Regions from separate parts of the Homo sapiens genome. Here region 2 is linked to region 1. The links come from fine-mapping of genetic effects on gene expression. A gene starts in region 1. The other region holds a variant in brackets. All regions are shown on one strand. Distances are between the middles of the regions. Region 1 holds the start of LINC01220 (long intergenic non-protein coding RNA 1220). Region 2 holds the start of PGF (placental growth factor).

The links. PIP is the estimated chance that this variant, and not a neighbour inherited with it, causes the effect.
Region 2: its variant is fine-mapped to the expression of LINC01220 in whole blood (INTERVAL, PIP above 0.99).

The regions. Positions count from the first base shown.
Region 1 is chr14:75,285,251-75,300,046 of GRCh38, forward strand. It overlaps LINC01220 (long intergenic non-protein coding RNA 1220), which reads left to right and starts at 9,154. Exons shown (of 3, transcript NR_038421.1): 1 at 9,154-9,291; 2 at 9,427-9,487; 3 at 10,870-11,160. It also overlaps the pseudogene DPPA5P4. RefSeq lists silencers at 3,895-4,079, 8,932-9,391 and an enhancer at 8,722-8,861.
Region 2 is chr14:74,946,361-74,961,156 of GRCh38, forward strand. PGF (placental growth factor) reads right to left here and starts at 9,237. Exons shown (of 7, transcript NM_002632.6): 1 at 8,808-9,237; 2 at 7,544-7,586; 3 at 2,997-3,193; 4 at 2,147-2,223; 5 at 19-48. The coding sequence starts at 8,882. It overlaps LOC107984690 (a long non-coding RNA gene), which reads left to right. Exons shown (of 3, transcript XR_001750826.3): 2 at 1-2,639; 3 at 2,945-3,867. RefSeq lists silencers at 99-148, 9,034-9,103, 9,284-9,383. The variant C/T (reference allele first, on the strand shown) is at 5,624.

The sequences.
Region 1 (14,796 bases):
GCATGAACCTGGGAGGCGGAGCTTGCAGTGAGCTGAGATCATGCCATTGCACTCCAGCCTGGGTGACAAGCGTGAAACTCTGTCTCAAAAAAACAAAAAACAAACAAAAAAGAAAACAACTACCAGAGGGCACCACTATTCAACATTGCTAAAGACATATACATATAATTGAAGGGGATAGAGGCAGAAGTCATTTCCTCATGGGGATTATGTCCAGTTTAGCTCACCAGGATCCCCAGAACTGGCTCAGTGCCTGGCACATGGTACAAGGTTAATTAATATTTTGCCCAGTGGATGAATAAATTCTGTGCTATTTCCATACACAGAAATATATTCCACACATATTCTTTAACTTCTCCTCTCCTGGTCCCTGTTAGTATATTAAGCAATGGGAATTTTACATCTTTTATGTCTGGCTGCAAAAATATACCCCATTCCCATCCTTGCCTCCTGGAATTCCTTCACTGTCTTCCTGGATGACCTCTGCCAATTCAACTTCAAAGCTGCCATTGGGCTTCTGGCTCCAAATTAATTTTCAATGGGAAGAGGGAAGAGGAAAAATATTTATCTCTGTAGAATAGTGGATTGTAGATTCTGCATCATCTTTGCACATCACTGCATCTTGTGTAATTATCAAAATTAAAGGGTAGGATTTAACAATTTGTTCTAATAACAGTAATTTTGTATCAACAGCAATTCCCATGTGTGAATGAAAGTAAATCAATTATGCTATCTTTAATTAACGGACAAAAAAAAATTGAGGCACAGTAAAAGTTCTCAGTTGATTATCTTGAGGTAATCGTCTAAAGTTTCAATGTTTTTACAGTTGAAAAAAAGCTAAAACAAAATTGATCTCTAAATGGTGTATGAGACTCATTCCAAACAGAGTAACCAAACTCCTCAAAAAAAAAAAAAAAAAAAAAAAAAGAGATATGAGCCTCACTTGAATGCTGAATAGCAGAATGCTTTAAATTGTGCTGTTTTCCTATTAATATTAAAGAGTTGACTTTTAGGAAGTCTCACTCAGGGTCCCCTGTCTCTCTACTGAAGAGAGAGTTATTCTCCTTTCTCTTTCTTTTGCTTATTAAACCTCTACTCCTAAACACCACCCCTCCACCAAAAAAAAAAAAAAAAGTTGACTTTTAATTCCTCTCCCACTCTATCTCTTTTCCTTCTTCCCTACAGGCACTCTGCTCACGAGCCTTCCTTCCACTCCTGGCACATAGAACACGTACTCCTGCAGCAGGGCCTCTGCACTTGCAGTCCCTCTGCCGGGGCCTCTTGCCCCAGGCTGGCGGCATCCTGTCATTTGGGACTCTGCTCAAAGGACATGTCCTCCAAGGGGCTTTCCCTGGTCATTCTATCTAGGGTGACTTCGGGACATACTTGCTCCCTAGGACTCTCTATTTAGTTATCCTGCTTTGTTTTTTCACAGCCTGTATCCCTACTTGCAATATCTAATTTATGTGTTATTTTCCTTTTAAAAAATTGTCTGTCTCATCGGGTGCAGTAGCTCACGCCTGTAATCCCAGCACTTTGGGAGACCTAGGTGGGCGGATTACCTGAGGTCAAGAGTTCGAGACCAGCCTGGCCAACATGGCAAAACCCTGTCTCTACTAAAAATGCAAAAATTAGCTGGGGGTGGGTGGTGTGCACCTGTAATCCCAGCTACTCAGGAGGCTTAGGCAGGAGAATCGCTTGAACCCAGGAGGTGTAGGTTGCAGTGAGCCAAGATCGTGCCAATGCACTCTAACCTGGGTGACAGAGCAAGACCCTGTCTCAAAAAAAAAAGAAAATTGTCTGTCTCTTATCCCTGAACTGTAAGTTCCATGTGAGCGGGAACCTTTTCTGTCTTGATCACATTTGTATCTCTAGTGTCTATTAGGCCCTCAAGTGCATGTTGAATAAAGAAGATGAATGAGTGAATGAATGCAGATGAAAATTACAAAAATATTGACAGGGACATAGCTAGAACTTAAAGTGAAGATAAACTATATACTTCACAGATTTTTTTCAGGGTAGAAGAGTATGCCCATTTGTTTAAAAAAATTGCCTTCGAGGATTCTACAATATTAAGATGAGGAGCTAGCTAGCTTGGGAAAGAATTTTAAGGGGTACAAAAAATACAAGTAAGCTGTAGGTCAGTGACACTTCTAGGCTAATTATAGGTTGAGAAATTGTTTCGCTATTAAATGCAGAATGAATGCATATATAAATTTAGATATAATCATTTTCAAAGAAACAAACAAAATTATGTTTTTCACTCTTACTGCTATAAAACTTTCAGACTATCACAAAAATCCCATTTGAGTTCAATGGTTCCTAGCAATCAGTGTGCTAAATGGTAAAACCTATAATTTAGTCTGCATTAAAATAGAAGAATAAGGGTTAGCTACTATCATTATTATCACATCAACATCATCATCATAATTATCATTTGCCAAGAATATGCCCAGACCTGAGGAGAAGCAGGTAGAAATAGGGTACATTGAATCCTGAGGAATCAGTGCAAAGTCTCTGAAGGGGGATGGTTGGATAGATTTCCATTTCCTTTGCATGCGGGAGAAAGCAACAGAAACGTAAACCAGTTCCGTTGCAACACAATTTATTTTCGTGGTTCCACACATCTATTTTTGGACTAAACTAAGTTGCCTTTCCTTTGCCCAAGCATTCTTCAGTTGCTTAAGAGGACACAGAGCAGTAAGGGCTCTGGAGCCTGCCTGGCCTTATGGCCATCAGCTCTCCATTTTTTTTTTTCTGAGACGGAGTCTCACTCTGTCACCCAGGCTGGCTCACTGCAACCTCTGCCTCCTGAGTTCAAGCGATTGTCCTGCCTCACTCCCGTCTCAGCCACCAGAGTAGCTGGGATTCCAGGCAACTGCTATCATGCCTGGCTAATTTTTGTATTGTTGTAGAGATGGGGTTTCACCATGTTGCCCAGGTTGGTCTCCAACTGCTGACCTCAGGTGATCCGCCGGTCTCAGCCTCCCAAAGTGCTGGGATTACAGGCATGAGCCACCGAGCCCAGCCAGCTCTTCTTAATAAGCCCTTTTCCCTTTCAGCTCAAGGTGATTGGGTTTGGTACAGTCAGGTGACTGGGAGGGCTGGGAACCCGCACGGGTTTAATTGTTGGTTATGTTAGAAGCAGACCCATACAAAGGGGCCCCTATTAAAGGGTCTAGACTGAGCAAAACGAAATACCTTCGTGCTAAATGTAAGTGACCCAGTCTCCAGTTGCCGCCATGCTTACTTTGGGGAACAATTTTTGGTCAAATCTATGGAAGCAATGATTTGTTTTTAGGCTTTTTGTCAGTGATGTGACTATCATCACAGCTAAATTTATCAAAACAATATAATATATTGATCTAAATTTGGGGAATTGGATCCAATGTATGTATGTATGTATGTATTTATGTATTGAGACAGTATCTCATTCTGTCATCCAGGCTGGAGTGCAGTGGCACAATCTCGGCTCATTGCAACCTCTGCCTCCTGGATTCAAGCGGTTCTCCTGCCTCAGCCTCCTGAGTAGCTGGTATTACAGGCGCATGCCACCATGCCTGGTGACTTTTTGTAATTTTAGTAGAGATGGGGTTTCACCATGTTTCCCAGGCTGGTCTCGAACTCCTGACCTCAAATGATCCGTCTGCCTTGGGCTCCCAAAGTGCTGGGATTACAGGCGTGAGCCACCGCACCCAGGCAAGAATTGGATCCAATTTAGCAGAGTGGTCCAAAGCATAGACTTAGCCCTGAATCCTCACTCCTAGACTTTGGGTAAGTTATTTAACCTCTCTGCTCCTTAGTTTTCCCTCCTGTAAGATGGGGATAATAATTGTATCCACTTCTTGGGGTTGTTGTGGACATTAAATAAGTTGGTATGTATAGACTGAATATCACAGCATCTGGGCACACAGAAGTATGATAGAAGGGTTAGTTGTTTTTGGCTGGGCACAGTGGCTCACGCCGGTAATCCCAGCACTTTGGGACGCCGAGGTGGGTGGATCACCTGAGGTCAGGAGTTCAAGACCGGCCTGGCCAACATGTTGAAACTCCATCTCTACTAAAAATACAAAAATTAGCTGGGCGTGGTGGTGGGACCTGTAATCCCAGCTACTTGGGAGGCTGAGGCAGGAGAGTTGCTTGCGCCTGGGAGGCAGAGGTTGCAGTGAGCTGAGATGGCGCCATTGCACTCCAGCCTGGGCAACAAGAGCGAAACTCCATCTCAGAAAAAAAAAAATAAAAAAAAGAAGAAATGTTAGCTGCTTTTATTATCTTTATAGTTTAGGGAGATGGGGGTCAGGGGAACATGTATGGGCTTCATTTCATTTAATAAAAAGTTTCTGGGTGTCTGCTATGTATCAGGTATTGAATTCAGTGTGAGGAAGAGACAATCCTGTCCTCAAAGAGCTCAAGTAAGGGAGAAAGACAGGTAAACACAAACCTTATAATACACTGTAACAATGGAAATTAACACCAGGTTCAGGAGTTACATGGAAGAGGTAGTGACAAACTCTCTCTGGGGGAGTCTCTGAGGAAGGTGACCTTTCAGCTAGGCTTCGAAGGTGTATGGAGCTTGCTAGATGAGCAAGTGGCAGGGTAGAGAGCTTCTGGGCTGAGGATTAGCACTGCAAGGGCACAGACTCATAAAACACTGAATTTGGTTTTGCTCAACTACAAAGTGTGTGAGGGGGCAGTGAGGGGGAGATGATGAGGAGGAGATGTAAATTACAGAACATCACGCAAGTGCATTTAATTTCACTTATATCAATATTGCATCATCAAATAGATGGGGCTGAAGATCAGCCAAGAAGAGATCACTGTGACCAGATCATGAAAAGCCTGGTGCTTACTTAGCTCAGTTATGTGTAGGCTGAACCAAGGCAGTGGTGGTGGGAATGGAGAGGGAACAAGAGGTAATTAGGGGGTCAGGACCTGGTGATTGAGTAGGTGGTGGAGGTGAGGGAGAGGGAGGAACCCAAGCTCACCGTCAGGTTTACCAGGCTTGAAACACGGGAGGCTTGTGTTTCCACCAATGGCTTTGTGACTATAGGAAGAGGAACAGGTTTGGGGGTTAAAAAGGTAAATTCTATGTTGGACATGTTGAGTTTGCAATGCCTGGGGAGTATCTATGGGGAGATGTGGGCAGTTGGAACCACAGCAGAGGTTCTATGATATGAGTTTATAGAGCTTGTCTGGAGGCAAATGGTTGGGATAGAACCTGGAGCCTTAAGAGAAAATATTGATAATGCCCAGTATTTCACATGTGCTTGCTCTGTGCCAGGTTGTGCTATGCACTTTATAGGCCATGCTAAATCAATGACTTTGGTTTGCTAATCATTGTACCTCTAGCAACTGGCACGTAATGGGCATACAATAATTATTTTGTTTAATAAATGCTCTCATTTAGTCCTCACAACAATCCTATGAGGCAGATATGATTAGTGTCATTTTACAGATAAGGAAAACAATTTAGGAAAGGTTAAATAAGCTGACCAAGGTCACACAACTGGTAAGTAGCAGATCTAAGATTTGAATCCAGCTCTTTGTGACTCTAAAACCCAAAGTGCTTAACTGCATTGCTAGAATGTGAACATCTGCTCTTAAAGATGTGCTTATGTGACCTGGGGTGAGATTTCAACCCCTCTGAGACTATTTCCTATGCCAGATTAGGGGTGGGATTCAAAAATCTCTAAGCTCCCTTTCCATCTTCAAAACTCTGATGACATCAGGAGACTGCTACGAAAATGCCCTAAAGTGCCCGCACCACATCATTCTTAGATGCTTGATGTTCTAGTAGCAACACTGGGGCATGCTCTGCAGTTGACACTCCTTGTAATCCTCTCACGGAACCTTTTTAAGATGGGAGGCCTGAGCAGTGTGTACAGAGCCACAGAAGTGTACCAAGCATGGGGAGGTGGGAGCAGTCTGTTCTAGGGATAGGCAATGAGAATGTATTTGGTTCTATTTCTGTATAACAATTTACCACAAACTTAGCAGCTTAAAGCAACACACATTTATTATCTCACAGTTTCTGAACATCAGGAGTCCAGGTATAGCCAGTTGCTTATCTAGCAAACTCCATCCATCTTCTGAACAGAACAGTGTTGTGTTCAAGGTCTCGCGAGGCTGCAATCAAGGTGTCAGCTGAGCTGTGTTTTCAGCTGGATGTTTGAGTGGGGAAGAGTCCACCTCCAAGCTCACTCAGGTTGTTCACAGACTGTATTTCCTTGTGGCTGTATAACTAAGAACTCTGGCATTTTGCTGGCTGTTGGCTGAGGCTACCCTTCGGTTCTAGAGGCTGCCTTGTAAACTTCTTCAACACAGCTGCTCACTTCATCAAGCCTGCGACAAGAACCTCTCCAGTGCATGCCAGCAAGATGGGGCCATACACAGACATAAAATTACGGGAGTGACATCCCATCACCTTTGCATTTTCTATTGCTAAGAGGCAAGTCTCAGGTTCCACCTGCACTCAGATGGAGGGAATTACACAAAGGCATGGACATCAGGAAGCAGGAATCACTGTGGGTCACTCTAGGATTTGTTATCCACAAGGGATCACATTATCTGCTTAGAATTTCAAACGAATAATAAAACCAAAAAAAGTTGGTCTGCCTTTTAAAAATTTTCCCTTATTTAAAACTTTATTCTTAATAAAGAAAAATGAGAAAACCCCAAAACTTTCTTCTTTAATTGGCAACCTTCAAAAAAGATATTCACAACAGGACTCAGAGCAAGGGCAGAGATCCCCAAAGAGATGGTTTTTCCTTAATTCATCAGGCTGGAGCAGAGTTTAAACCAAGCTGGAACCACTCCGGCTCTGGCCACAACCTAATCTCTACATCCTGGCCTCCATCACATTGGCCGGAAGCTGGTTCGCTTCATCCAAGGGTCTAGTTTGAGGGCATTCATGGCTTCTGCAAGTTTGAGCATCCCTTGCTCCTGGTGCTGGCAGTGCCACTCAGCCATGGACTGGAGCATCCACTTGGTTTGGAGCTTGTACCAATAGGAGCTGTAAACCACGACCTCGGTGAGGTCTGAAGACTCCAGAGCCTTCAGCTGGAGCATGGCCTTGCTCATCTGCTCGATGTAAGGGATTATCCATACGGGCCTGCTGGGGGAAGGGGATGAGAGCTCCCAGGTAGGGCACCCAGGCCAGCACTGGGCACACTCACCAAAGGTGGCTTCCAGCAGCCGCGTCGGGACCTAGAACACCTCTGGGCCTTTCAGGTCTTTGGGCAGTCTGCCTTTTAAATAAACACTATGAGCTGGCAATTCTAATGTTGTCAGTGACAAAGTACTTCTTCCTGAAAAAATCTTTGGTTGTTTTAAGTCCTAAACAGTTGCTGGGATTACTATTGAGTTTGAATAATGTAATATGTACGCTTCATTTTAAAAAATTACTTAAAAAACAGAGATAACACAATGACTGTGAAGACTGAATTTGAGTTGCTTCTGTTCCATGTAACCATTTGGAGTTTTCGTGTTTAAAATTTAAAATTGCGAAGCAGTGTGATACAGTGTTTTGCCATGTTTTTATTTGACAAATGCACATTTTAGTTAATAACTAAATATTTTTACTAGATTTGAATATTATCTTTAAAATAGATAATTCCTTTTGCTTATTTATTTTTGAGAGAGGGTCTCCCTGTCACTCAGGCTGGAGTGCAGTGACTGCAATCAAGGCTCACTGCAGCCTTGACTGCCCTGGCCCAAGATCTTCCCACCTCAGCCTCCCAAGTAGCTGGGATCACAGGTGTGCACCACCATGCCCAGCTATTTTTTTTTATTTTTGTAGAGTCGGGGTCTCCTTATGTTGCCCAGGCTGGTCTAGAACTCCTAGGTTCAAGTGATCCTCCTGCCTTGGCCTCCCAAAGTGCTGGGATTACAGGCGTGGGCCACAGCGCCCGGCCCCCTTTTATTTTAAATCTAAAGAAGACTCGAGAAAAAAAACATTACGTCAGTAGTAGATTTAGGAGATGCACTACTAATACTACGTAAGTTTCTCTTGTGCTGCCTGGGAATAAAAATAAACACTTAACACTAACTTGGGGCTCACAACATGCTTGACACTGTTCCAAACACACACACACACACACACACACACACACACACACACACTCATTTTAAAAGTCCTCATCTACTCTTAAAGGTAGGTCCTGCTATTATCCTTATTTTTGTAGATAATAATATAGTCTGGGGCGCAGAGGTCTGCTCAAGATCATCCAACTGGAGTGGCAGCGCTGGAATTAGAGTCCAGGCAGTGTGGCTTCAATGCCTGAACTCTTAGCCATTAGAAAGGAAAAACAAAGCAAAATCAGTATCCGCAACAACCTTGCAGGCACGGAGGCCCTCAGAAGGGACAGGAGAGGCCGGGCGCGGTAATCCCAGCACTTTGGGAGGCCGAGGCGGGCGGATCACCTGAGGTCAGGAGTTGGAGACCAACCTGGCCAACGTGGTGAAATCCTGTCTCTACTAAAAATGTAAAAAATTAGCCGGGTACGGTGGCGCGCGCCTGTAGTTCCAGCTACTTGGGAGCCTGGGGCGGGAGAATCGCTTGAACCGGGAGGCAGAGGTTGCAGTGAGCAGAGATCGCGCCAGTGCACTCCAGCCTGGGCGATAGAGCGTGACTCCATCTCAAAAAAAAAAAAAAAAAAAAAAAAAAAAACAAAGGAAAAGAAAAAGAAGGGACAGGAGGGCCTCCTTCCGCTCCTGACCAGCCCCTGCTGGCCCGTGGGCAGAGGGAGAGCCGGCTTCCAGGGACCTCAGGGAGGGACGTTTGGGAGTGCTCTCTCAGCGTCCCCTCCACCGCCCTCTCTACACCCTTGCCGCGCCCCTGTCCTCGTCGGCCAGGCCAAGGTTTCTCCTGGCCCTTCCCAGCTTCCGGCCCTTTGCTCCAGGGCAGGTCGCAGGGCCAGACGGTGCCAGGAGCTCGCGAGTCCTCTGTTTACTGTTTGGTTTCCACGGTGACACGTAGGCGCCGTCAGCGACTCCCGTCACCGCCCCGCAGCGCGGCCCCCACCCGGCGCCGTGACGCCGGCCCGCCGCTTCCGCTCTGCCCATATTTGGCTCAGCCACTGCGCCGCCGGCCCGGGGTAGGCTGTGGGCGGGACTCCCGCCGCGCCCCGCCCCCGGTCCCTGCCCCGCCCCTGGAATGCTGGGCGAAGGCTCCGAGCCACGAGACCCCCGCCTCCTGTCCCGGGACCCACCCAGGCGGAGGCAAGGGCAGGGGCGCTGGGGGCCCAGAGAGAGGGCGCCGCGATGGATGAATGAGCTGTTTCCAGCATTCCTGTGCGTCTGCTGGTTGTAGCTGCAGTCAAGATTTGGGGCGGTCTCGTTTGTTGTGGGTGGGTGATCTGGGATCACGATTTTCTCACTCTGTGCCCGGAAATCATGCCATCTCTCGCCCAACGCTGTATTTTATAGGCTTCAACTCAAAATTTTCCTTCATGGCACAGTGGAAAGCTTTGAAGACGGCGGTTCTGGGGTCAGTGTTGCCCCTCGGGGGATAAGTGACCTTGGGAAGGCCATTTTCCTTTTCCTGGCATGATAAAACGAACCGTGGGGGTGGTCCATAATGGTTGCAGCACTGTCATCAGGCTTGTGAGGGGAGCTTTTCCATCACCCTCTAACCACCCCCTCCCCAGGACATAACTGGAATATCAGTGAAGTTCTTTGAGCATCGACCCCCTACAGTTCTGCCCCCTGTGGTGATTGGATTTGTGTGTCTCTGCACCTTGCTCCTATTAGGCGCTTAATGAACTTTAGTTAACTGATTATTGAATGAATAATACGAATCACCTTCATAAATCCGGACCCCTGCAATTCCTCTTCCAGGCCGGGCGAGGGGGAGGGTAGGGGATGGGGGAGAATATTGAGATGATTAATAATCGCGCGGCAGGGTTGCTGATGTAAAGCGATTTGCAGATCTAAAGGGCAATAAGCATTCCTGGGAGAAATCCAGCGAGATTCCAGAAGTCTCTGAGGGAGCCGTGGGTGTGTACCGCCGGGCCCAGAGGGCGGGGGTGGGGCAGGCAGTGCCGCAGTGGCCGCTGCTGGGGAGCCGATTGCAATTGCGAGGAGAAGCGTGGGGTTAATCCTTCAAGACGCCTGTCACCATCCTCCCACCCCCATCCCTGCCCCCTAGATTCCCCAGTTCCTCTGGCTGAAGGAGTGTGTGTTTTCCAGAGTTTCAGAGCTGGAAGTCACATCGGAGACTTTTAATCTAATTTAACCTATTTCGCCAACAGGGAAATTAAAGCTCAGAGAAGTTGGTTCGACCATCCAAACTTGCACAGCTAGTTAGAAACTGATAAAAGTCAGGATATCTAGCTTCAAATAGTGTTCCACATCGCCTAGGTGCTTCTAATTTCCTGTGCTTCAGAACCCTGTTGCCTGGCTCAGCTGGTGGGTTGTACATTTAGGCTAAATATTGACTTCAGGGCTCTTAAAGAACGCCATTGTCACGTCTGCTGCCACACGCAGCCCACACCATGACACCAGGGCCTGGGGGGGATGGCCAAGAATTGTGTACTTCCTAAAGCCTCAAGCATTCCTCCTTAGAGCAGCTGGAATGGTCACCCCTGTCCAGGGAACAGGAGTCGGCTGTTCTGAAACCAGTCTTAGTCTAGCAGTTGGTCACTTTTCATAGTTACCCAAGCCTTGCATTAAACTTTTCTCAGCCAAGATTACAGCAGGAGGCAGGAGTAGCCCTAACCCTTTTCTGCTGTTTGGAAGTCTTTTCATGGCACATGGAGGGTTCCTTGCTGGGGGTGGGGAAGAGTGCCTCTTCAATGCTTCTCTCTTTCTCTTTCCCCTTTCAGTCTCACCCAACTTCCTCTTACACGCTGTTTCTTCCCTAACTTCTAGGCTGAATATGAAGGCAACTCGGACTAAGAAGACGACTGCTTTCCAACTGCCCTCCCGTCCTGCAGCCGCCTGATTTGAGGAAGGGGCTGGGATCCTTCCCCTTGCCCTCTGGTTGTTCTTGGAGTTACAGCAGCCCCGCGGCAGCTCTGCCCCCTAGTGCACATGTGAGGCAGCGCGCCCTTCTCCAATCCAGAAGCCTCGTCGCGGTGCTGCCAGCAAGGGAGTTTTTCTGTATTCACTTTGGTGGAAATAGCAAAACTTGACAGAAAAAAAACCCAAGCCAAACCAAAACACACGAACCATTCTAGCCTTTTCTCTCTTTCGTTTCTTTCTGAGGATCTGGCCGATTTGGATGCAGAAAACATGCCTGTTGCTTCTGCTGCGAAATCTGCTCTTTCTCTTCCTGCTATCGGAACCCTGTCCCTTCTTTCAAAGCCTAATTCAGGCCAGGCGCGGTGGCTCACGCCTGTAATCCCAGCACTTTGGGAGGCCGAGACAGACGGATCACTTGAGGTCAAGAGTTTGAGACCAGCCTGGCCAAAATGGTGAAACCCTGTCTCTACTAAAAATACAAAAATTAGCTGGACATGGTAGCACACGCCTGTAATCCCAGCTACTCGGGAGGCTGAGGCAGGAGAATCACTTGAACCCGAGAGACGGAGGTTACAGTGAGCTGATATCAGGCCACTGCACTCCAGCCTGGGTGACAGAGTGAGACTCCATCTCAAAAAAAAAAAAAAAAAAGCCTATTTCAAATTCCACCCCTTGCCTAAAAACTTTTCCTGACTTCTGACTTTCCTCTCCTATGCGTCTTTTTTATTTTTTATTTTTGAGCTGGAGTCTCACTGTGTCACCCAGGCTGGAGTGCAGTGTCGCAATCTCCGCTCACTGCAACCTCCGCCTCTGGGGTTCAAGCAGTTCTGCCTCAGCCTCCCGAGTAGCTGGGATTACAGCCACCCGCCACCATGCCTGGCTGATTTTTTGTATTTTTAGTAGAGACGGGGTTTCATCATGTTTGTCAGGCTGGTCTCGAACTCCTAACCTCAAGTGATCCACCCGCCTTGGCCTCCCAAAGTGCTGGGATTACAGGCATGAGCCACCGCGCCCAGCCATCCTATATGTCTTTTGAAATATGGCTGTACACAGGCTCAGCACACAGTGTGCACTTATATACTGTATTTCTTTATTGGGGTCCAAGTCTGTGCATCTTTTGTGTTCACAGACCCCAGGGTGCCCAGCACAGGGCTGGGGACACAAACTGCTCTCAATAAGCCCCTGTTTATTAATTAATTGATTAGCTTCCACAGAAACAACTGAGGTTTTGCTTCAATAAACCTTGCAGAACTCTTAGTTCTTTAGGGACTCTGGATAGTGATCTAATCAAATATGGCCTTGCACAGTAAGTCATTTCACAAAGCAATTTCACAAGAGAACACTAACATCACCCAGAGTGGGATGAGGAAGTCTGAAATTTGAAGTGGACTCTCAGAAAGATGAGGAAGGTGGCGGTGCTGTAGACAGGTCAAAGGACAATGACTTAGGAGAGGTGGGTCTCTGCTTCTGGGATAGAAGACGCAGCACGGGCCCTAGAGTTAGCTTCATATCCAGACTCTACCACTTGCTGTATGTCCCTGGGCAAGTTTACTCTTCTCTCTGTGCCTCAGTTTTCTCCTCTGTAAAAAAAGGCCGGGCATGGTGGCTCCTGCCTGTAATCCCAGCACTTTGGGGGGCCAAGGTGGGCGGATCACCAGCGGTCAGGAGCTTGAGACGAGCCTGGACAACATGGTGAAAACCCATCTCTACTATAAATACAAAAATTAGCAAGGTGTGGTGGCACGCGCCTGTAGTCCCAGCTACTCTGGAGACTGAGGCAGGAAAAATCGCTTGAACTCAGGAGGCAGAGGTTGCAGTGAGCCAAGATCGCACCACTGCAGTCCAGCCTGGGTGACTGAGCAAGACTCCGTCTCCAAAAAAAAAAAAAAAAAAAAAAGTACCTATCTCATAGTGATACAATGAGGGTGAATTAGCTGGTATTTGTAAAGTGCTAAAGCAACACCTTGCACCTCGTAAGTACCATGTAACTGTTTGTAAATGAATTTTCCAGCTTAGCTGTCTTGTCATTGGAATGGGGATTGATTATATGTTCTCTTGGTTCCCTCGAGCAGTGACCTTTCAGGGCAGTGCATAAGCTTTGGGGTCAGGCAGGTCTGGGTTGACTCCTATCTTTGTCGGTAGTTGTGTGACTTTGCACAGATAACTTCTCGGAACCTCAGTGTTCTTATCTGTGAAATGGGAATAATTGTGTCTACTTCAAAAGACTGTTGTGGGTATTGCATGTTTGTAATGTGCCTGGCACAGAAGGAGTGTAATAAACAGAAGCTATAGTTATTATTGTGGACAAGAGCAGCCACATGTAAAGGAAAATAGAGTTTCCAAGGTCATTGAAGTTTCCAGAAAGACTGAACATATCAGATAGCAATGAGACCAGCTCAACTTGTGGAGCTTGGTGGGAGGGTGGGCCTGGGTCTGCGCCAGGAGTAAATATCACCCCATTTGAGGAAGCAGAAACGGTGTGACTTGCACATCAGCTCTAAGAACATTTTCTGCTCCAGGGCTGTGCTGAGGGCGTGGACCCACTGGGGCTGGATGCCAGGAGCTGGAGGCCTCTCCGGCTCTCCTTCCCAGGAGGGGAGATTTTAGTAGAGAGGGTGTGGGTGGGCCTTGGAAACCTCTTGTTGTGTGTGCGTGGGGTGCGGGGGAGTGTCAGAATGGCCCAGGGATATCTGGCCTTGGTAGGTGTACTCCCAGGCCTGGGGTGGCCTTCCTCATGGCAGAACCTGCCTTCACGGCTCCTCAAAGCTGCCATCCTTCACTCCAACTGAAGACACCCCTGACTGATTGCCTGCAATTATCCGAGGAGTGGGGGAAGGAGGGTTTTGGTAGTCTTGCAGCCAAATTAATCTTAATTCCCTTCAACTCGTGTGGAAAAGTACCCAACGAAATATGCAAATGCTGCATGTATTCCTTCAGTAAAGGGGAAGGAGGGTTGCAACATCAAACAATGATAGGGTGTCGCAATCCTAAACGTGTGAGGAATTACTCTTAAGGTCCTCGTACTTGACAGCTCCGGGCCCCCATGACACATGAGGAGTTTTGTGCTCCGAAACAGGCCAGGGCCAGGGTGTCTACCACGCTTACCACTAGCTGTGATTTGGGGGCCTCAAACACAGCCTGAGACCTGGCAAAACCATCTTAGGAACTGGGGATCACAGAGGACTCTGCAAACCTCCTTCTAAACTCATATTTCCAGTAATGGCAACAGGGTGGGCCCTTAATAGCTCCTGGAGCAGAAATTGAAGGTTGAGCTATCTTTAAAAAAAACATGGCAGGCGTGGTGGCTCATCCCAGCACTGTGGGAGGCTGAGGTGGGAGGATCACTTGAGGCCAGGAATTCAAGACCAACCTGGTCAACATAGTGAGACACCATCTCTTGAAAAAAAAAAAACAACATAGCTTATGAAGAGTCATGAAGGTGCTAATATTGGCTGTTCCTGGGTAGGAGGGAATGTGTTTTTATTTTCTTCTTTTTGCTTGTCTGTACTTTCTGATTGCCTTTTTTGGCAAGCACATATTGCTTTTGTAATAGGAAAAAAATATTTTCAAAACGTTCTCAGCAAAGTAGTATGTTTGTTTTTAAAATAGATGACAACATAATAAATGGGAAGTTTCCAACACCTCCTCACTTTTTAAAAAAAACTTTTCCCAAAAGAAATACATGCTCCTGGTAGAAACCTTTGAAAATTCAGATCATCAAAAAATAAAGAAAATAAAAATTGACTGTAATCCCATCACAGGAATAACCACTGTCAACATTTTTAATTCTACCTTTCCAATACACACACTAGTTTCATTTTTTATTTATTTTTT
Region 2 (14,796 bases), 340 kb before region 1:
CCCAGCCAAACCACTTACCTTTCCGGCTTCATCTTCTCCCGCAGAGGCCTAGGGAAACAGACAGAGAGAGGGGCAGAGGAACGTTAGGAAAGCAATAAGTGGGGCTCCCTGCCGCCCGGACAGGTCCCCTCCGACATCCCCAGTCCTGGTCCTGCAGCTGACACTGAGGCCACTAGGGGGTAGCATGGAGTTGGCAAGGGAGAGGTGGCCAGAGCCTCAAGGCTTCACTCCCACTCCAGGCTCTGGTGACCCCACCACGAGAGGGACAAATCAACCTCCTGGGGACCCCTGCCACCCGCTTCTGCACTTCTCAGCCTCTTGGCATCAAATTTGGTTGTTTCTGTCTGTTCTCTGTTGCTTTTTCTTTCTCACTTTCTTTGCTGCTTTTTTCCGTTCCTTCCAGGGTGCATTCTGGGAATTTCCTCAGGGACAGGAGATGATGGCCAGACAGCGGACTGGCTGCCTGTCAGGGCACAGCCCCACTCCATCCGGAACAACATGGGGAGTGAGCGACGGGGTGGGAGGAAGGAGGGAGCATCAGCCCTGAAGTCACCAGGCATGTCTGGGCTCTGCCTCCCAGGGCTGTGGCTGTTGGCCCAGAAGCAAGAAGAAAGGTGTCCCTGTTGCCTGGCCCCTGGCAGGGGATAGGGCCTCAGTCTTCACTGGGAACAGTGGGTAGAGACATGGGACAGCATGGTAGCAGTCAGCTTTGGGGCCAGGACATGCTACCCTCAGCTGGTTCCTCCCTTGGGAGCCAGGGCAAGGTACCAGGGCCTCTTGGGACTGTCTGGTTGTACCTCTCCATATTGGGCAAGTGACAGACACTCTTGGAACCTCAGTCTCTTCATCTGCCTGCCCCAAAAGAGTGGCTGTCAGGGCAAAGGGGATGGAGAAGGTGACTCTGGGTCACCACCCAGCATTGCACCCAGGAGGGTTCATTACCGAGCTCTTGTTATATGGCTAAGCTCTGGCTTGGAGGGATGGGTGGAAACAAGTTGAGGCAGGGTCTCCAACACTCCAACAAAAGGGGCAGCCATAGCCCTGCCCAGGAGGCAAGGCTAAGCCTGGGGGCTATTAGAAAAGTGGTCATGGCCATGAAAGGTAGCCTGAAAAACGAAGGCTTACGAGTTAGGTCAGGGCCCAGAATCCCTCCTCCCACACTCACTAGCTGTGATAAATCATGAAACTGTATTGAGCCTTGATTTTCTCATCTGTAAAATGGGGATGACAATAGGGCCTACCTCCCAGGGTTGTTATGAGAGCAGGAACCTTGCTCACCACTGCATCCCATCAGGACAATGCCTGGCATGTGGTAGGTGCTCAATAAATGTATGTGACTAAATGAGAAACATTCAAGTGCCTCCTGCGGGGCTAGGCACAGAATAGGTACACAATAAGTGGTAGTCTTCCCTCCTGCCGCCCCTGGCTAGGGCTCTGGACTTCTAGTCTGGTGCCTTCATCCATGGCCCAGTAGTACCAGGAGCAGCAGCTCAGCCCATTTCTCTCTTCCCTGAACCTAGCTGGCAGTGCCAGGCCTGTTGCTCCTGCTAACCAATGTTCCAAGTGCCCCCAGCACAGGCAGCAAGACTGGTGCTGGTCAGAGGCTCTGTGGATTGGGAGGGGCCGTAGAGGGGTGCTGCAACATCAAGGAAGCCACAGTGTCACTCTTCTTCTGCCCCTTTTCTCCTACCCGAGCTTGTCCTTCTTGCTGCTTCTCAGCCCCGTTTGCCCGCTCCTGTGGGCACACAGCTTGCCCCAGAACGAAGTTCAGACTTGCAATGTCTTTGCCTCCAGGCACCTCTTTCAGAGGCCCGTGGCAGCTGCCTCCCATCCCAGAGAAGGGGAACGACACGCACCGAACCCCTGCGAGGCTGGGAGGGACCCACCCTCTCTCTTCCCTTGCAGTATCTCAACAGCTGTACCCCAGCTGCTGGGACCAGCTCCCTTGGCAAAACTGGCTGGTGGGGGGACAAAATGAATGGTAGCCACCCCTGGTCCTGCCCTCTTGGTCTCCCTCAGTCTGGAAAAAAGTTCAGCCCGCAGCGGGGATGGGCAGCCTTTGCCTCTGCCCTGGGACCCATCTTTGCTGAGGCTGCCAAGAGGACGGGGGCCTTTCCTTGCTACCCACCCGACCCCGGAGACCTACCGGCATTCGCAGCGAACGTGCTGAGAGAACGTCAGCTCCACGTAGGAGGGCCGGTCCCCAGAACGGATCTTTAGGAGCTGAAGGAAGAAAGAGTTGATGCCTGGATTGGGGAGTGGCCCACGAGTTTCCGGCACTCTTCTCTCTCTCCTTGTAAGGAGAACCCGACTCTGTTTCCTGCTAGCCTGTGGACTACAGGCCCTCACTCCACTCTGAACGTGGGGCAAACAGCTCTCTCAGCTGCATGGGGATCTGAGGGAGGCCCCTGTCCCTCCCTGCCCGGGAGCACTAGCACAGCAATAGCACAGGAAGGGGGCTCATGTTCTGGAGTCAGAGAGACCCGTGTTCAGATCTTGACTCTTTTACCTGCTGAACAAGTGAAATAACATCTCTGAACCTTGAGTTCCCCATCCGTGAAATGGGAATGACACCAGCCTTGAAGGATTGAATGACACACCACTTGTGGCACGCCTAGGACAGTGCTTGGCATTACTCAGTAAGTGCTCAGTAAACCACTGCGTGTGTGACATGTAAGCTGCACTTGCTTGAAAAGGGACCAAATGCTCCTGGTGTCAACAGGGACTTTATACAAGCAGATTTCTTTCCAGCTTTAACTAGACACCCTGAGTCTTGGGATAGGACTCAGCGTGAGGCTGAGAATGCTGGTGGGGGTGGAGATGAGTGGGCTCAGAGCCATCGGAGGGCTTAGGAAGAAGAGGCCCTGGGCTGGGGTGGTAGGAGCACTGGCCTGGGAGTCAGGCTCCAGCCCTGGGACCTGGGCCTATCTTCTTCCCTCTCCAGGTACCTTCTAGTGGGCAGATTCGGTGGCCCCCTGGGCAGGGTATGGACCTACCTGCATGGTGACATTGGCCGTCTCCACCGGCACACAGTGCAGATTCTCATCGCCGCAGCAGCCGGTGCAGCGCAGCAGGGAGACACAGGATGGGCTGAACATGTGCTCCACCTCGCTGGGGTACTCGGACACGACGTCCACCAGCCTCTCCAGCGCCCGGCAGTAGCTGCGGCCCCACACTTCCTGGAAGGGTACCACTGCGAGGAAGCAAGGGGGCTGGGTCAGGCCAGCAGAGACCTGCCCCTTGAAGCCCTAAACCTGGCTCCCAAGGCCCTGCTGGCCTTCCAGGTTCAGCCCCCAGCCCCATCCGAGCTCCCTCAACTCTGAACTCCTAATGTGATCCCTCCGAAATGCCTGCGGGCCCCTTAGCTCATCTGCTGGATGGAAATCCCCATGGAACAGAATCTCTCAGGGTCCCAAGCTTTGCTCTGTCCTCAACTCAGGCACCCACGTCTGCCTTGGCTCCCTGGAGCTTTGAGGATTGTAGCCCCGGCAGCTACCCAGGCCCTCTGGATCTTTCTCAAGCCTGACCCGGTGCTTCCTCCAACTTGGAGAACTTGCAGAAAACAGTCATTCCTGGAGTCATGCAGGGAGGGTTGGCCTTCCCTTATTCCTCTGCTCAAACACCTTCCACGGCTCCCTCATTTCCTGCCCCACTCTGTGCCAGCTCCTCTGCCTGGCAACCAAGACCACATCCAGCAATGTGGCCCGACCCTCCTCTCCACTGAGTCCAACCAGCGCTCACACTGAGCCACGGCAGCACCACATTCACTCCCAGCTCTGGCTTGTGCACTCTGCAGCCCGTACAGCTGCTCTTCTTCCCCCTCCTCTCATTTCTATCCAAATAAAGTCCACCCGCCATTTTCCACGACCTGCCTCCCCACCTCCTCTTTGAAGACTTCCCCAGCAATTCCAGTGCACACAGATGAGCCTCCCTTGAGCACTGCTTGGCCTCTGGCCTCAAGGGGTTGCCTTATCTCCGGCACTGCTTGCTCTTATCTCCTTTACAACCAACTCGAGGCTCCATGAGGGCAGAGATGGACGTACCCGTAAACACAGGCTAAGTCACTCCTGGTTGATTAGATGACATTTCACTGAGGATCATCCGGGTCATCCCTGACCTCACGATGTCCTGGCGATCGTGAATGGGATCTTTTGGGGGCTGATCTGGAATCCCTCAAAAGATGCTGCTCTTTCGGGGGAAGGCCTAGGACCAGGCCCCAAATAGAGGCTCACAGGGAGAGTGGCCAGAGTCAGACACCTGGCTTCCAGTCCTGGCCCTACACTGGCTATGTGACCTTGGGGAGATCACTTAACCTTTCTGGATAGATCAGTTTCCTCAGGTGGGAAAAAAGAAGGTTGGGAATAAATGGTTGCTAAGGTCTTTCCCTCTCTGACCAACCGCCTGTGAATCAGTGCCTGCAACCCAGCCCAGCCCAGAGACCATGGACAGAGAAACACCCCCAGGCCTGGGTCATCCTGCTCTGCATCTGATGGTCATCCTCAGCTAGTGGGGAAGAATGGGGAGCTGGGGGTCCTGCAGCCTCTGCCATGGAACAATGGCCTCTCCCAGCAACCCCTCATTTCTTCCATGCCTCTGCCTAGGAGGCAGAAGGGGCCAAAGTCCATTCCACTGAGCCTATGAGGACATGAGCCTCCTGGTAATCTCGGAAGAAAAATAAACTTCAGTCCTAGCAGAGGCCCTCGGGAAAGGCTGCAAACTGGTGGAAAATACCCAGAGGCGGTGTGTCCATGTGGAGCTGGCTAGGCAGTCATAGAGGCAATAAACAGTGTTATCTGCTTGTTTGCTGCTCCATTCTGCTCCATTCTGCCGTGCTCTGCTTAGAGGGCACTAGGGCCTAGGGGCTGGTGGTGGGGGGAATCCATAGGCCTCCTCTGACTCTACCACTCCGCGCCACTGGATACTGCCCCGGAACCCAGTGGGAAACAAGGCCTCTCTCCCCAAAGGCGCCCAAAGTGCAGGGAAGCCTGCCTTTGCAATCCTGGGTCAGAGAGCACCTCCCTATCACCAGCTCCTTGAGCTGTGTGTTTAGTTTAAAATCTTCATGAGCACTACGTGACTCTGAACGTTTAATCTCCACCTTGGAAAACATAAATAACAGCAGAGGAATAATGAGCTGCCAAAGCACCACAGAAGACTCAGGTTCCTGCCCTGGGACCAGCCGTCAGCGAGGGGACAGCAGCAGAGAAGGGGCACCCCAGCCCCCTCCATCCTGCAAACAGACACCCACCCAGCTGGGCTGCGGGGCCATGGCCACCTTTGGCAGAACTGGCTGGGCCTCGGCAGCAGAAGAAGGGATTTCCTTTCCTCACCCCACATCCCACCATGCAGGTTCCGGGTCCCTGAAACCCTGGAATCTGCCACTTTCCCAGCCCTGTGGCCGAACTGTGTTGGGGGAGGGCTGAGAAGGAGGTGGGCTGGAGCCTGGTTTACCTGGCAGCCACCAGGAAAGGGCAATTCATCCCTGAAGGCCCCGCTATGGGTGTGTGGGAGAAACAAAAGGGGCTGGGTGAGGGGCCGGGCTGAGGGAGTACAGTGACCGCTCCCAGATGTGGGCTGTGTCCCTCAGGAAAGAGCTCTGCTCAGCTGTCCCCGAGAGCACTTC[C/T]GCTGGCCCCAGACCTGCTCCGGGAGGGGGTGGAGGTGAGAGCAACGGGAAGCTGTGGCCCCCTCAGGGCCCCCTCAGGCACTGCCAGGGCTGGGTGGTCCCCAGGGCTGCTCCTGAGGCTGCAAGTGTGCCCTCAGCTCTCTCGCCAGCCCTGTGAGTGAGCCTCCCACCTGCCTACCTACCACCTGGGATGGGGGAGACCCCAGGAGAGAAATGCTTAATCCTGAGAGCAAGTTTCTGTGGAGGGCACTGGAGACGGGCCACAGGGCTGGGCAGAGCCACTGGCCACCAGCCCAAGCCCACAAGTGTCCTCTCCATGGTCACTGGCAGGGCACACAGACAGCCTGCCACAAGGGACACCCTGCTCATGCCCGCTCAGCCACGGAGCTATTGGGAGCACTTGGTTCTGCCAGATCCATGAGGAGTGTCTGAGGCTTGGGGCGACCCCCAGGGCCTCTCTGAGCCTCAGGGCCTGCCTGCATCTGTAAAAATGGAGTACAACCCCTTCCTACTTCACAGCCTGTGGTCAAAACAGAATGACAGAAAATGCCTAACATTGTTACCGTGAATAGTAATAGTAAAAATCAATGCCCATGGCTGGCCATGCTGTCTCTGGCTGTGGTGTTAACAGGTGGGGATGCCATTTTCAGATTTTGAGAGCTGGGGTGCAAAGCTCGTTGTACTTCTCCCGGTCAGATTGCAGACTCCCTGATTGATAAGTGTGACAGGAGAGCTGACCTAATGAATCTACACTTCCAGGCCTCCCCACCTCAAATCCTGGGTGATATGTACACCCATTTCTCCTCCCTGGAGTCAGAGGACAAGTCCCTTTTTCAATCTCGGAAAAAGAAGAAACCATAGACATCATGTAGCCAAGGCTCCCATTTTACAGATGAGAAAACTGAGGCTAAGGCATCTTTGGTAGCTGTGGCCTGACCTACACTAAAAGCACCAAAAAGGGCATAGTGTGGAGGTAGGGGATGGGTCCTTCCCCAAATCCCAAGGAGCATAATGTTGTGCTGGTTCCAGAGGCACAGCAAGGGAGGCATCCATGAGGTCAAGGGCAGCTACCTCCTCTACCTGCTCAGGGGTCTAGGGGCCTAAGCCTTAGGTGTCAGAGTATGGCCAGGCCCGGGAGAGGCGGGCTGCCAGGCAGGCAGCCCAGCAGAGGGTGTTCCCAGCACGCAGATGGCTATCACGCGTGTGCGTGTGCATGTCCCTACATGCCCACTCTCCCATGGCGCAGGGGAAACCTCAGCGGTGGTGTGTGGCCACTTTGCACGTCTTGGAGAGGCAGGGAGGGAGGAGCGAGGTAGGGGGCCTGGCATGGGCCTCCTGCCTTCTGTACATATGTCTCTTTGGCAAACGTCTCGTTGCCCTTTGAAGACTCCCTCTTGATGCAACCAGGGCGGGGAGTGGAGGGGCCAGGGAGGGCGCGACTATGTTCTGTCTGTTTATAATCAATGGAAACGCATGGTCAGATCCCGGCAGTTCCACCAGGGCTGGGCTGCTGGGGAGGGCCCCTCACCCATTCCTGATCCTCTTGACTGCCCACTGCATTCAGCTCCCAGACCCCCATTCTGGCCCCTGGCACTCACTCCCCACCCTGTCCTCCAAGACCCCATCCATACCCTTAAATCATGCTGGGGAAGGGCTCTGAGCCAGCTGGATGAACCCTGGCTATACTGGCCCCAGCCCCACTCTCCGTGTGCTGGTGACTCCAGCCCACACCTCTCTAGTCTCTGGGTCACCATGAGGGGATCTCTTAGGCCCTGCCAAAGTCATCACCCAGCATGTCTAGCTTGTAGGCTCTCCCCAGCTTTTATCAACCTGCACCCACGCTTCATGCCACACCTGGGCTTGGGAGAAAGGAAGAGAGGGGCTTGGGGAGCATGCGTACCCCCAGCCTGGCCAGCTTACCTTCCACCTCTGACGAGCCGTTCCCAGCAGACAAGGCCCACTGCTATGGACAGAAAAGTGCAGAGGTGAGCTGGGGGTACCTTGGAGCTCTGCACTCTTGGGCCAAGTGTGATGGCAAGAAGGTAGGGGCCCCTCTGGGTTCCTTCCCACTTGCTGCACATGCTCTGCCCTGTCTCAGAGCAGCCTGAGTACCACTAAAAACTCACTGGACCCTGGGTAGGTTAGGTCCCACCCCTCTCTGGCCTCAGTTTTCCTCATTTGGAAAAGGATGGGAGGCTAGAAGCTTTTGGAGACCCTTGGCCTGCTGCATCCCAAAGATCTTCCAATCCTGCGGGTCTGCCTTCTACCCAGCCCCCAGGCCAACCCTGCTGGGCCCTGCACAGCCCGCCTTGGCTGGGTGCCAGAGCCCAGGGGGAGGTGATCAGCTGGTGGGAGCTGAGGGGCTGGAGCGGGTGGCGCCATGAGCTGGTGCAGCCGGTAACGTTACACCTCTGGCCAGCCCTGCAGCAGGCAGGCGGGTGGCTGGGCTGCTCGGACTCCTCAGGGACTGCCCAGCCCACTCCTACTCTTGGGCTGGGGCTGGGGACTCCCAGGGCAGTGGGACAACGCAGTGGGAAGGCAGTTCATTGGCTTTGTCAGGATTTCACTGCCCAAGCTGGCTCCCAGCCAGACTCACCCGGCTCCTGGGAAAAGGGCCCTGCTCACTTCCCCAGGCCCTGCACTCAGGACCTCCGGCCACCCACCCAGGAGAAAAGGCACAGCGAGACCCCTTGTCTCGTCCCCAGCCCACCCAGGAGCCCACGGCTCAGTCCTGAGCCCTGGTGGGGGCAGGGCCAGCCTCCCCACCAACAGCTTCTTCAGCTGGCTCCTCCGCCACCCCCACCAGGCCAGGTCAGAGGTCCTGGGGACGCCTGGTTGGCCATGGGGCCTCGACCCTGACCACAAGGCCAGGGACCCGCCTGGGATTAGTGGACAGATGCTTTTAGCAAAGCCACCAGGGCTCCAGGGGCCAGACAGGAAACCTCCCTCCCTCCCTCCCTCCCTGTGGCTTCCCTGCCCCCACCAAGACAGCCCCCAGGACCTGGGGGACAGCCAGCCTGAGGTCTCTTCCCAAACGAAAGAAGTCCAGCCTGGCCTTTAGGAAGTGTGTGGACATCCTTGGAGTTGCTGCTCCCTGGAGTGGGTCTGTGATTTCAGAGTCCCATGCTTCCAGTGCTGGGATGGGGAGGTCTGGGGAGCCAGGCTAGGTGGGGGTAGCTCTTACCTGGGGGGGCACAGCAGGCAGCGCCAGCCCGGCCAGGAGCTGCAGGAAGCAAGGGAACAGCCTCATGACCGGCATCTTCTCAGACGTCCCGAGCCAGGGGGCTCCGAGGGAAAACCACCATGCTCATCCCCCGGGGAGCCCCTGGCACAGGAGGAGAAGAGCTGAGTGGGGGGCTGGACGCCTCCCTCACTGCTGCCCCGAGGCCCCGGCCGGTGGTTCGAGCATCTTCTGGAAGCCTTGCGGAGTCAGGAGCCCGTAGGTAAGGCTGTGGCTGGGGAACCCGACGGGGAGCGGCCCGGCGGGGCGGGGCGCCGAGGGGCAGGCGGGTCCCGGGGATGGTCCGTCGGGCGCCCAGTGCCACTCCAGGTCCTCCCGTAGCTGGGCGGCCGTCCGTCGATGCAGTTTCCTCCGCAGACAGCAGCTCCCTTCTGAGACTGCAGCCGGTCCGCGCCTGGGTTTCAGGGACTGAGCCGGGGCGGGGCTCCGGGCCGGCCCCGCCCACCGCAGACGAGGTTCCCGAGCCGAGTTCCCGGAGCGCCCGGTCAGCCCGCAGCGCCCGGCCAGCCCGCAGCGCCGGAGCCCGCAGTGCGTGCGAGGGGCTCTCGGCAGGTCCAGACGCCTCGCCGAGCCCAGCCCGCAGCTCCCCGGGCCGCGCCGCGCCCGCCCACAGGGCCCACAGCCCTGCTTCGGCTCTCAGGGCGGTCACCTGGGATGGGGGCATCCAGGAGTCCAGCGTCAGCCGTCAAGGCTCATGATCTAACCGCCTCTGCAGGAAGGGCCGTCCGGGATGCCTGGGAAGGCAGCCATGCCCACACCCCTAGGGGGCCAAGGGATTCCTAGCCAGGTTATATAGATGAAGAAACCGAGGCTCCGAGAGCACCCCTGCCTGCATATGTCGAATGGACATAGGCATTCTTGGAAAGTGTGTGTGTGTTGTGTGTGTGCGCGCATCTGTGTGTCCGAGGAACTGGCAGAGACAAAACCCAAGCCTACGTGACTCCAGAACTCTAACCCGACCTACCACCCTCCTAGCCAGGCACGGACACAGTGGGCCTCCCACAGGAAACCTCTCAGGGCACCTGGCTGGAGGATCAGGCCTGTTGCCTCCTTGGGAAGCAGTCTTCCCAGGCCCTCCCTGCGGGGCAGCCCCCTGTGGTAGAGAGTGGTCTCACTCAGGCATCTCCTCCTGGTCCCTGGCCGAGGAGGAACTGTACGCTGCGCGGGGGTCTGTGTGCATCTGCGCGTGTGCATGGGCATTTGCGGGTCTGTGAATATCCATGAGCGGTGCATCTGAGCCTCTGTGTGGTCTGAGTACGTGTGACTACTGTACCTCCAAATACGCCTCTGTGTGGGGGTCAGGTCTCTCTGTATCTCTGTATGCTTGTGTGATCTGTTCGTGTCCGCTGTGTATCTGGGTGTGTTTGGAAGTGTCTGAATGTGTATCTTTCGGTGGGACTGTGAGTCTGCACGCCTGCCTGTCTCTGCGTGTGTGTGTCTGTCTCTGTGGGTGAAGACTGTGCCTCTCTCTCTGCGTTTGTGTGTGCCCTCCCTTGGTTCTGGATCTTTCTTTACCACCACTCCTCTCACTGCCTTCTGTGTCCAGCTCCCAGGCTGCAGGAACCTGGCAGGACTGGGAGTCACGAGTTGGCTGGGCCTGGGGCTGGTGGGTGGCTGTGGGGGAGGAGCGAGGCCTGGGAAGTGGCCCCTACAGCTCACATTCCAGCCAAGAGCAGGGAGGCCAGGGCAGCCCCAGCTCTCACCCCAGTGACCTCTGCGTCCACTGCCTGCCTGCCTGCCCACCCACGAGGGGCTGCCAGAGATGCAGCCTGCCTGCCTGGCCGGCCCTAAGCCTGGAGGTTCAGGAGGCGGGGGCCAGTCACCAGCTGGCTAAGCGGGGTCTGCAAGGAACATCCTGACGAGCTTCAAACAAGCTGGGGTTCGTGGGGTAGACAAACTGCTTCCTGGGCCCAGAATCATTGTGGAGGGTCACTGTGCATGTGTGTGAGGGTGAGTAGGTGTGTGTTTGTGCATATATGTATTGTATATGTTGCCCATAACATCTTTGTATACATACACGTGTTTGTGTGTGTCTTTAGTTTGGGTATGGATTTGTGTATGTGGGCACAGGTGTGTATTGTGCACAAGTGTGTGCGCGTGTGCTTAAGTATCTTCATTGTATATGCTTGTCTATAACTGAGTGTTTCTAGCACTTATGCATGGGATGTGTCTATTGTGTATGAGTTTGTATTTTTTTTTTTTTTTTCTGAGACAGAGTCTTGCTCTGTCGCCTAGGCTGGTAGACAGTGGCGCAATCTCGGCTCACTGCAACATCTGCCTCATGGGTTCAAGCGATTCTTGTGCCTCAGCCTCCCAAGTAGCTGGGATTGCAGGTGTACACCACCATGCCTGGCTAATTTTTGTATTTTTAGTAGAGACAGGTTTTTGTCATGTTGGCCAGACTGGTCGAGAACTCCTGGTCTCAAGTGATCCACCCACCTCAGTCTCCCAAAGTGCTGGGATTACAGGTGTGAGCCACCGCGCCCAGCCTGTATTCATTAATTTGTTTTTTCATTTGGCATGTATTGCCTGAGCCCTGCTATGCTCCAGGAACTGCTCTAGGTGCTAGGGATATGATATGGAGGGTCTCTCTGAGTTTACATTCATGGAGTAGGGGGATACCGATGGCTGGGGATGCCGAAGTTCTCTTTCCTGAGTGAACTCAACACCTTGGGCGAAGTCTGTGGTTCCCACAAGTGCACCTCAGTCCTTCATCACTAAATTGGGGACCATACCCTTCTAAACCCAGCTTCCTGGGCTGTGAGATGAATTAGCCTAGGGTAGGCTCAGCGGCAGAGACCAAGGAGACTCTAACATTTCCATGGATTGAATCAAAGTTTGTTCTTGCTCACATCCAGTCCAGAGCAGCTGTGCTAGTAATTCTGCTCCCTTGTTTTTTTTTTAAATTTTTGTAATTTTAATTTTAATTTTTAGAAACGAGGTCTTGCTCTCTCTCCCAGGCTACAGTGCACTGGTGTAGCACTGGCTATAGCTCACTGCAGCCTCCAATTCCTGGGCTCAAGGGATCCTCCCGCCTCAGCCTCCAGAATAACTGGGTCTACAGGTGTGTGCTACCATGCCCAGTTAATTTAAAAACTTTTTTTTTTTGGGGGTAAAGACAGGGTCTTGCCATCTTGCCCAGGCTGTGCTCCTTTGTACACTGGCCCCACTATTGACCAGCCACATCGCCTCAAGCAGCTTCCTTTGCTTTCAGAGCCCCAGCTTCCTCCATCTGTAGGAGTGGGAATGATAACAGTACTTACCTCATAGGGTTGTGCGAGGACTGAGAAAGCACCTTTGGTGCAAAGAATGGTAGCAATTGATCACGATTTCTAATTTAATTTTTGACTTGTATTAGAGAAATAAAAATACTACAGTTAGACCAGGTGCAGTGGCTCACGCCTGTAATCCCAACACTTTGGGAGGCCAAGAAGGACAGATCACCTGAGATTAGGAGTTCGAGACCCGCCTGGCAAACATGGTAAAACCCCGTCTCTACTTAAAATACAAAAATTAACTGGGCGTGGTGGGAGGCACCTGTAATCCTAGCTACTCGGGAGGCTGAGGCAGGAGAATCACTTGAACTCAGGAGGCAGAGGTTTCAGTGAGCCGAGATCGTGCCACTGCACTCCAGTCTGGACGACAGAGTAGAACTCCATCTCAAAAAAACAAACCAAAACAAACAAACAAAAAACAAACTACAGTTACAGAGCAGAGTCCTGTAGCATGGACATGAGATAGAAAATAAAGAATCTTATGCTTCTGCCTGTGGCAGTGGAGAAAGAAAATGGAGCGATTTGCATAGGTGCACACAAACACTAATTCTCACCATCACAGTGCAGGCTCTCAATCCTCAACTGTCACTGAGGCCCTTGAAGTAGACCCAGGTGCTTAGGGGGTGGCAGTCAGTGCCCACAACTCAACACTTAACTGTTTATCACCACAATCTCTTGCTGTTGTTTCAGGGAGAGAAGTAATATTTATTGAACATCTATTATATGCCAAACAGTGTGCTTGGTGCTCTAACCACCTTGACTCATTGAATTCTGATCACATTGTAGTGGTAGGTTTTAATTATTTCCATTTTGAAGATGGAAAGATGGAGGCCCAGGGAGTTTATGTAATTTTCCAATAGTCGTTTAGCTACTTAAAAAGGAACAGTGATGGGGATCAAGCCGAGATCTTTCTCCAAAGGTCTTTCCAGTGAACCTAAGCGCTAGCTCCCAACCTTACTGCAAGGACGTTGAAGGTGAGGGCTGATGTCTTGAGCCGTTTCTGGGTCTTCCCCATGCTGGAGCAGAATGGATGCTTGACAGACTTGGGATGGTTGATGTGTGGAAGGAAGGAGCCCTGATTTCAGGAGCTGACTCTTATGCGGGGAGTCGGGCAGATACAGATAAACATGAGGGGTTGGGTGTGGAAACACTGGGCCATGACAATGCAGTGGACCCTGAGCAGTCATGGCTTCCAGTCTGCAGGCCAGCCCCTGGCCCCCAAGGCATCCTGCAAACACAGTTTCCCATATTATTAGTCATCGTGTTAGCCTGAAACACCTGCCCCAACCCATCCCAGCTTGTAGGCTTTCAGCTTCCTGACTCACTTCCCCATTTTCTAGCCATTTTCCCATTTTCTAGCCTCTTTGTTGTCTTGGCCCTATGAACTTTTCCCCAGTGATGACTTGTCCTCTCTTAACGACAATTCAGCACCTGCCTCTGGAGAGGTGTCTCAAGTGGTCCTGGGTAAACACCCTCTGCTTCTGACCTTGTTCCTGAGTCCCGGACTTGGGTGGCTGAGAAGTGTAGCATCCAAGGATTATCTTCCCCTTCATGACTGGTAGAAAGGGAAACAGTGGGCAGCTCTGGGCCAAGGGCCTTTTCACTTTATAGACTGAACCTGCATTATAGCCAGCAGCTACTCAAAGCTGCTAGCAAGCAGATGCTTGGTTGGCCTCTGCCTTCTTGCCCTGCCTCCTGGGCTGCGATTTCCTGTGGACCCACCCCAGCCTCCATCCTGAGCTCTTCTTCTCTTTATGCACTTGTTCTAGGCAGGATTCCATGGCTTCCCTGGCAACCAGCACTGGGTAAGACATCCCTGGTACAGGTTCCCACAGTACCTTGAATTCCCCTCCATCATGGCACCTGGCCTTCAGTATCACAATTGCCCAGTTGCTTATCTGTCTTGCCTAAAAGATGGTAAGATCTAAGAGGGCAGGTACTGTGTCTCTTGTTTACCCTTGTAGCCTCCACACCTTGCTCAGTGTCTGGGACATAGTAGGCCTTAATTGATATGTTTTGAGTTGGATCAATCCTCAGAGACTAGACCTTCCGCATGGGGAAAATGTCCCAAGTCTGGCCCTCCCTTACTCACGTGCCCTTCAGCTGTTCAGAGGTGCCCCCTCCTAGACCCCATACTCAAGAACTTTCAACTTGGGTGGGCCCCTCTGATGGTGAGGGACGGAGAGTGTGGGGGAACCATCTCTTGTTACTGTGTAATCATGTGCTGGGTTGGTCACCACAGCCCCACCAGCCACCAGGGGACAAGGCTTATGTCTCAGGCCAGAGACCAGAACCCAGTGGGAGGCCTGGGGTGGGGCCCTGTTGGAAGGGGGCCAGGAGAAGAGCCCATGGGTGTCCAAGTGTTTCCAGGAGTGGGAAAGAAGATGGCATCTGCCACAAGAGCTGGGAACGAGGGAAGCCAGGCAAGGTGCCCACGGCCTTGTCCCAGGCTTCTGGGGCAATGTGTCATCACCAAAGGAATGGAAACCTGTACTTTGGGAACTTGGCAGCCAGGGCTGGGTTTTTCGTGTTTTCTGTAATTATTTCCCTTTCGTTCTCCCTTAGTATTTAGTAAAGCCCTTTGTGAAAATGCCAGCTGGTCTCAGCTGTGCTAAGAGTGGTGACAAAGGGGGACTCTGTGCGTGCTTGGCCCTAAG